Homo sapiens: one gene and its partner. The protein of the gene in region 2 interacts with the protein of the main gene of each other region in a biochemical or structural test. Each region holds a gene or a part of one and is shown on either strand. Other genes may lie near its edges.

The links. The genes of interacting proteins can lie anywhere in the genome.
Region 1: of the proteins of CHEK1 (region 2) and ATR, one has a biochemical effect on the other in vitro, tested with the Homo sapiens proteins (7 studies listed by BioGRID, with this or other methods).

What each region holds. Positions count from the first base shown.
Region 1 is NC_000003.12:142,576,812-142,580,411, reverse strand, and holds the start of ATR (serine/threonine-protein kinase ATR), read left to right. Parts: upstream 1-1,678; 5' UTR 1,679-1,707; coding exon 1,708-1,766; intron 1,767-3,600. UniProt on the Homo sapiens protein: Serine/threonine protein kinase which activates checkpoint signaling upon genotoxic stresses such as ionizing radiation (IR), ultraviolet light (UV), or DNA replication stalling, thereby acting as a DNA damage sensor.
Region 2 is NC_000011.10:125,648,980-125,652,927, reverse strand, and holds part of CHEK1 (serine/threonine-protein kinase Chk1), read right to left. Parts: intron 1-3,948. UniProt on the Homo sapiens protein: Serine/threonine-protein kinase which is required for checkpoint-mediated cell cycle arrest and activation of DNA repair in response to the presence of DNA damage or unreplicated DNA.

The sequences.
Region 1 (3,600 bases), on a different chromosome or scaffold from region 2:
TTAATCCCATTTTATAAATGAAAAAATGGAAGTATTAAGAGATTAAGTAACTTTACTGAGGTCATATAGTTTCTAGCAGATGGAATGAGAACTTGTGTAGGGCCTGTAACTCCCAATCCCATGTCCTTTCTCCTAAAACATTCAGTGATTCATTCAACAAATGTTTACTGAACACCACCTATGTGCCAGGCACAGTTTTAGGTCCTGGGTATCTGAGAGTGAACAAAATAGACAAGACCTTGCTCTCCAAGAGCTTACACTCTAACTGGAGAGAGACAATAATATAGTATGTCCGGGTGTGGTGGCTCTCACCTCTAATTCTAGTACTTTGGAAGGCTGAGGTGGGAGGAGCGTGTGAGGCCAAGAGTTTGAGACCAGCCTGGGCAACATAGCAAGACCTTGTCTCTACAAAAAATAATTAGCCAGGCGTGGTGGCATGTCTGTAGTCCCAGCTACTCAGGAGGCTGAGGCAGGAGGATCAATTGAGCCCAGGCTGAGGTGAGAGGATCGCTTGAGCCTGGGAGATTGAGGCTGCAGTGAGCTATGATTGCAACATTCATTGCACTAGAACCTGAACAACAGAGTAAGACAATGTATCTAACAAAAAAAAGAGGGTGAGACAGAATGTGTATATATGTTAGTCTATATGAGGCTCTTTGGTGTTAATTTGGCAAACACCTGAAGGAAAAAGGGCAATGACAGAGTGGTGTTCAAGGCAGAGAGTACAGCAAATGCAAAGTTCTTGAGGCAAGAGCATATTTGGCTGTCATTCCATCACTTTTTTCTTTAAGATACTGTATCGGTTAACTATCCTCATGTACCAAAGAACAAATGTAAACATACTGCATGACTTTGAGTGATTAACTACATAACTTTGACATGTCAACAATCTCTTATGGTGGTCATCTTTCCAATAAATTGAGTTGAGCTAGAAAATGTGTATTGCCAAAATCCATTGATTTACTTTAAAAATTAAATCACAGGTTGCGGATGCCCGTAATGGTGGCATTTCCACACACAGTACTGTTGCTGATTTGATGAGACACAAATATATTCCAACCCCATTTTCAAATATTAAAAGTTGGTAGGGTCCTCAACGAAACCTAACAGTGACTTCAAGTTGAAAAAAAATGCTTAAAAGGAAAAAAACAGGGAGAGCCCACCTTTTGGCCTGTATCTCTCAGAAAGAGGGACAAGAGCGGTGGGAACGTGAGGAACTTTTAAAATGTGAGAGCGTTACTCTGGGGAAACCTGGAGTTTACTCTTGGCCTTTACTCGCTGGACTGTCATAGTTCTCACATTTGTGAAGCGAGTCTGGGCTGGCGGCCCTCAAGCCCTATCCTCCCCCGATGCGGAAGTCTTGCTTCTCTGTGCCTCCCAGGCTTGAGAACAGCAGAGTCTGGCCGCTCAAAACGAAAGCTTCACGAACGTCGCTCGCTCGGTGCTGAGAAAGAAGCCTGACGCGACCCGGGAAACTTGACCGACGCACGCCCGCCCGCTTGCCCCGCCCCCTAACGGCTTCCCGGCTTCCCCCGGGTCCTATGCAGAAAAGACGCTGGGCCTGGCAAGCGGGGCCAGTAGCGGCTTCCGGGAGGAGTTTTGGCCTCCACACGGCTCCGTCGGGCGCCGCGCTCTTCCGGCAGCGGTAGCTTTGGAGACGCCGGGAACCCGCGTTGGCGTGGTTGACTAGTGCCTCGCAGCCTCAGCATGGGGGAACATGGCCTGGAGCTGGCTTCCATGATCCCCGCCCTGCGGGAGCTGGGCAGGTAGGGCTAGGCCCAGCCTGGGTCCTGCATCCTCCTCCGCTGATTCCGGCTTGGGTTTCACGTGCTCTCCCCTCCCCTGCTGCGCTATGGCTGGGATCCCCTAAGCCCCCGCTGCGGCCCTTGTGGAGATGCTCCGTGGCTGATTTGGGCGCTTCTCCCTCAGAGTGCCCGTTGATAGCACATGGGGCAGTCGCCACAAACCTGCGGGAAGCCGGTCCGTGGGGGAGAGAGGCGTCTGCCGGCCCTGGTTTACCACTCACCCCGATCGAGAGTTTGCTTCCTGCAGCTGGAGGAAGAGTCCCTGCTGATCGCTTTCTGGTCACTTTTCTACACTCATTTTCTTCTCGAAAATCTTTTTCCTTAGACGAGGGACTTGACCCATCAGTTTCTGTTCTTTGTGATCACTCGTGGAGGAATTGGTTTTTAGCCTTACATTTTGTCCCCAAACTGCCCTTGAAAGAAAATCACCGCTTCTCATTTTCTGCAAGTGACATCACTTGCTGGAAAAGGCAGTTTTTTTCTTTGAAGTGAAGTCATAGTACATACTGAAGATGTGACCTCCCTCGTATTGATCGTCCAGTTCCCGATCCGTTATTTTAGTCAGAAATTGGAGAGATAGACCCCTGGGTCCACAAAATCTCAGCGTGCACAGAGTGTTGCCAAAATTTGGAGACAATTTAATATTTCATTTGCAAATGCATGTTGTCTGTAAACCTCATGAAAACCAGTATCTTACCACAAGGAGGGAGAGGTGTTGATGGCTCTCACACCTCTTCAATACACAGGCAGGCTTCCCTGAACCAGGCCTAAAGACTCGGTAGAGCTTGTTTTGCTTTGTTTGTTTTAATTCTACACTACTGCGAACAAGAAATAAATAAGCTTGTGCTGCTACCGCAGTTAAATTATCATTTGGAATAACTGCTTCCCAATTTCTTAAACTGTTTGAAAACTTTCCACACAAAGTCAAAGCTGACATTAAGCCAATGGGATAGCTACTTCTCTTTCTTTTTGCAGCGCAGTTGTGTTCATTTCCACTGGTTGGCCATCCAAATAATCTAGTCTCAATATATGAATAAAAGGATAAATGAAGGGACCATTCTTGTCGTAACTGCATCACTATTTTTGAGTGTGTGAATTTTTTCCACTTATCTGTGGCAAGTATACTTTGTGTTTAGTTTATAAAATAACCTCTACCTCTCTAAAAGAAGAGGAAGAAAAGTGATCATTGTAGGAAGTTGGTTTACAAATTTCATCTTTCAGGCTCATTGTGAAGCTGAGTATATTTTTGCCACTTTGCTTTAAAGTAGAATTAACTGGTTAATACTTCTCTTCCCTCTTCTGTCTTCCTCCGTGAGTCCTGTTAATAAAAATAATTGGTTCTTGGATTATATATAGTCGGTTTCATCAGTAGAGTTTATGTTACCTTTCATTTATTTGTAGCTATTCCAAGAGAAAGAATAGAAAAACTGACCCACAGAGAGTTGTCTAATAGTTTTTAATTGTCATGGCTTTTTCATTACAACTACTTGAATCAAAAAAGCTAATCAATTTTCATAGTATATCCATGACATAGAATGAAACAAGTGTTACCACTGTTTAAGAAAAAGGGACAGAGAAGTTGAAGAACCAAAGGCACAGCTAGCAGATAACAGAGCTAGGTTTCAGATTCAAGCTTTCAAGGCCTTTTCTTCCAAAATGTTTCCTCTTAATTGACTATGGCAATTAGACTACTGAAAAAAAAAGATATTAGTGTTCTAATTTATGGGCTGCTCTTCCTCAGTCCCTCAGATAAATTTTGTCCTATTGTTTTTTTGCTATTAGCAGTCTGCTCTGC
Region 2 (3,948 bases):
TACAGCTAGATAGGAGTAAGTTCTAGACCACTGTAGGATGACTATACTTAACAATAATAGAGTTTCAAATTGCTAGAAGGATACTGAACATTCCCATCACTGAACATTCCCATTCCCACAATGTTTGAAATTATGAATATGCTAATTATCCTGATCTGATCATTATACATTATATGAATCAAAACATCACTACATACCCCATGAATACATTACAATTATTGTATCAATTAAAAAAAATTTGCTGGCTACCTCCATAACAGGAGTAATATTAAGTATGCTGATAATCTCACTCATTCCAGAGTCTCTCTTCTCCCAGTGGGTATGTGTGTCCCCAACCCAATCTATCAACAGGGGTGCAGCTCCTAGGGATTGAGTGTATATGAACTCATAGCAACAAAACTTACTGTCTTTTACCAAAATACCACTGAAAGAAGAAACAATCAAAGATGAAAACATAATGGGAGGAAAAACAAGATTATTAAAATGTGAGAAAGAAAAAGGCCTGACTTGTGGCTGAAAAGCTAGAGCGGCAATTAGAAGATGGCAAAGGTCTTGAGAGGCCTTCAACTTCCACTTTCAGTCTTTTAGAACGTTCCTATGGCATGGAAAGACGCTCAGCCTAGCTGAATGATGCAGAAAGAAAAGACTCAGCTAACAGACAGTGCCAAGACTCCAAATATGGGAGTAAGGATGTTTTAGACCACCAGCCACAGTAAAGACATCAAATGACTACAGCTGGATGAGTTAAGCCCGAGCGAGATCAGCAGATTTGCCCAAAAAACACAGCCCAAATTACAAAAGTTTTTGTAATAATTCTTACTTCAAGAAACTATGAAAACACACAACCATACCACGACTGTGCAGCACTGAAATAACCCACTATGTTCTGGGAAAATTAATACAAGATATTCAACTCAACACATCTGAATTAAGCTCTTAAACTTCAAAGACAAAGAAAATACTTCAAGAACTGAGAGAGAGTGAATCAAGGAGTGATGTCAGTGAAAATGGCAGAGAAAAGAACTCCAGAAGTCCATTACTCCACAAAAGCAATTTTAAAAACCTGCCAAAGCCTGTCAGAATCAACTTTTTCAGAACATTGTAAACTAGCTAAAAGCTTGCAGCAACTTATTCAAAACAAGTGAAACGCAGTAAGAACAGTGAGCTTTCTGGCATTTTAACTTACCCTGTTTATCCCCTGCTCCTCACTCAGTAGCAGCCTTGAAAATAACAGTTCATATTTAAGGCATAGGTCCAGGTGGGAGCAGAATAAACCTCATTTACAAACTATCTTAAGCCGATCTGACCCTCTAAAATGACCTGATCAAAAGGCTTGTCCTGGCCAGGCACAGTGGCTCATGCCTGTAATCCCAACACTTGGGGAGGCCGAGGTGGGTGGATCACCTGAGGTCAGGAGTTCAAGACCAGCCTGACCAACATGGTGAAACCCTGTCTGTACTAAAAATACAAAAATTAGTAGGGTGTGGTGGCAGGCGCCTGTAATCCCAGCTACTTGGGAGGCTGAGGCAGGAGAATCGCTTGAACCCGGGATGCAGAGGTTGCAGTGGGCTGAGATCACACCATTGCACTCCAGACTGGGCAACAGTGCGAGACTCCATCTCAAAAAAAAAAAAAAAAAAAGAGGCTTGTCTTTATTTCACCTTTGTAACTCTAACTCACCTTGTGCTAAAGCTACTCCTGAGTAGCGTTTGCTGAAAACACTTACAGGAAAATGCTTTAGTCTCTGTTGCCTGAAGCAATGAAAGCAACTGGTGCAAACAGACTACCCAAGAAGTTTGGAAGAAGAGGTTAGGGAGTGAGATGTTTCTGGGGAATAGGACTCTGAAAAGGTCCAACATATACCTGGGAATCTAAAAAGACACACCCATGACCAGGGCAGTACATATGCTTAGGAAAGAGCTGAGAAGGCCCCTAAGCTCTACATGTGCCCTAACTTTGCATTTTGCACAAGCAGATAGCGAAGGCTGAAGCAACGTTGTAAACTTCTTGGTTGAGTATTGCAGGTGTGCCCCAACACAAATACAGAACACTCTGCAGATTTTTTGTTTTTGGTATACAGAATTTAAGGAAATCTCTGTCCAATCATTAGCTGACCACTAAAACTAATGGGACAGAAATTGTACAGCCATGCATGACAAACAATACCAACTTTAAAAAATTATATAAGAAAAATCACTAGGGCCGGGCATGGTGCCTCACACCTGTAATCCCAGCCACCTGAGGTCAGGAGTTCGAGACCAGCCTGGCCAACATGATGAAACCCCATCTCTAATAAAAATACAAAAAGCCAGGCACAGTGGCAGGTGCCTGTAGTCCCAGATACTTGGAAGGCTGAGGCAGGAGACTCACTTGAAGCCAGGAGGTGGAGGCTGCAGTGAGCCAAGATCACGCCACTGCACTCCAGCCTGGGCAACAAGAGCAAAGCTCCGTCTCAAAAAAAAAAAAAAACAAACACCACTAAAAAAAACAAACAACTACATCAAGCGGTAACAAACACTGGCAAGAGGGGAAAATCTGACTTTCTAGAGTTGCCACATATTGCCACAATATGTCCAGTTTTCAACAAAAAATTACAAAGCATGTAAGGAAACAAAGTATGGCCCTTATAAAGGAAAAACAGCAACCAAAACTGTCCCTGAGAAACATAAAGAAAGAAGAATAAAGAAAAATGAACAGAGTCTAAGAACTGTGGCACATCAAGTATACCAACAATAAACATAATGAGTCCAAGAGGGAGAGGAGAGTTAGATATAAAAAAAAAAATCTGAAGAAATTGTGGCCAAAAACTTCCCAAGTGTGATTAAAAACATTAATTTACATATCCAAGAAGCTCAACGAACTCCGAACAGAATGAAAAAAGAAATCCACACCAAGATACACCATAGTCAAACTGTGGTCAACAGAGAAACATAAAAGCAGCAAGAGAGCAGCAACGTCTCACATAAAAGAGATCCTCAGTAAGATTAACAGCTGATTTCTCATCAGAAACCACAAAGGCTAGAAGGCAGTAGTGGCATAATCAAAGTGCTGAAAGACAAAAGCTAATAAGAATTCTATATCCAGCAAAACTACCTGTCCAAAAAGTGGAAGAGAAATTAAGGCACTTAAACTGATAGGAATAGATACTACACTTGATCTTAGCCAAAAGGCTAAGAAGCGATTTTTTTTTTTTTTTGAGACAGTCTTGCTCTGTCACCCAGGCTGGAGAGCAGTCATGCAATCAGATCACGACTCACTGCAGCCTTGATCTCCAATGGCTCAGACTATCCTCCCACCTAAAGCCTCCCCAATAGCTGGCATTACAGGTGCACACCACAACGCCCAACTAATTTTTAAAATATTTTTAGTAGAGATGGGGTTTCACCATGTTGGCCAGGCTGGTCTCAAACTCCTGGCCTCAAGTGATCTACCCACCTCAGCCTCCTAAAGTGCTGGAATTACAGGTGTCAGCCATGACACCTGGCTAAGGCACTTTAGATTCAAAGACACAAATAGGTTAAAAGGAAAAGGAAAAAAAAAATAGACCATGGAAACAATAACCAAAAGAGAGCTGGTAGCTGGGTATGGTGGTACATGCCTGCAGTCCCACCTACTTGGGAGGCCAAGGCAGGAGGGTCACTTGAGCCCAGGAATTTGAGGCTGCATTGCACTATGATCGTGCCTTTAAGTAGCCACTACAGTCTAGCCTAGGCAACATAGTGAGACTCCATCTAAAAAAAGGAAAATACACAAGATAGCTGGTGAGCTGATGTGGATATACTAACATTAGACAAAATAAACAGACTGATGAAAACTGTCAATTTAGCTGGGCATGGTGGTGCACACCTGTAGTACCCACTACTCAGGAGGATCACTTGAGCCCAGAAGGTCAAGGCCAGCCTGGTAAACACAGAGACTGCATCTCTACAAAAACATTTTTAAAAAGTT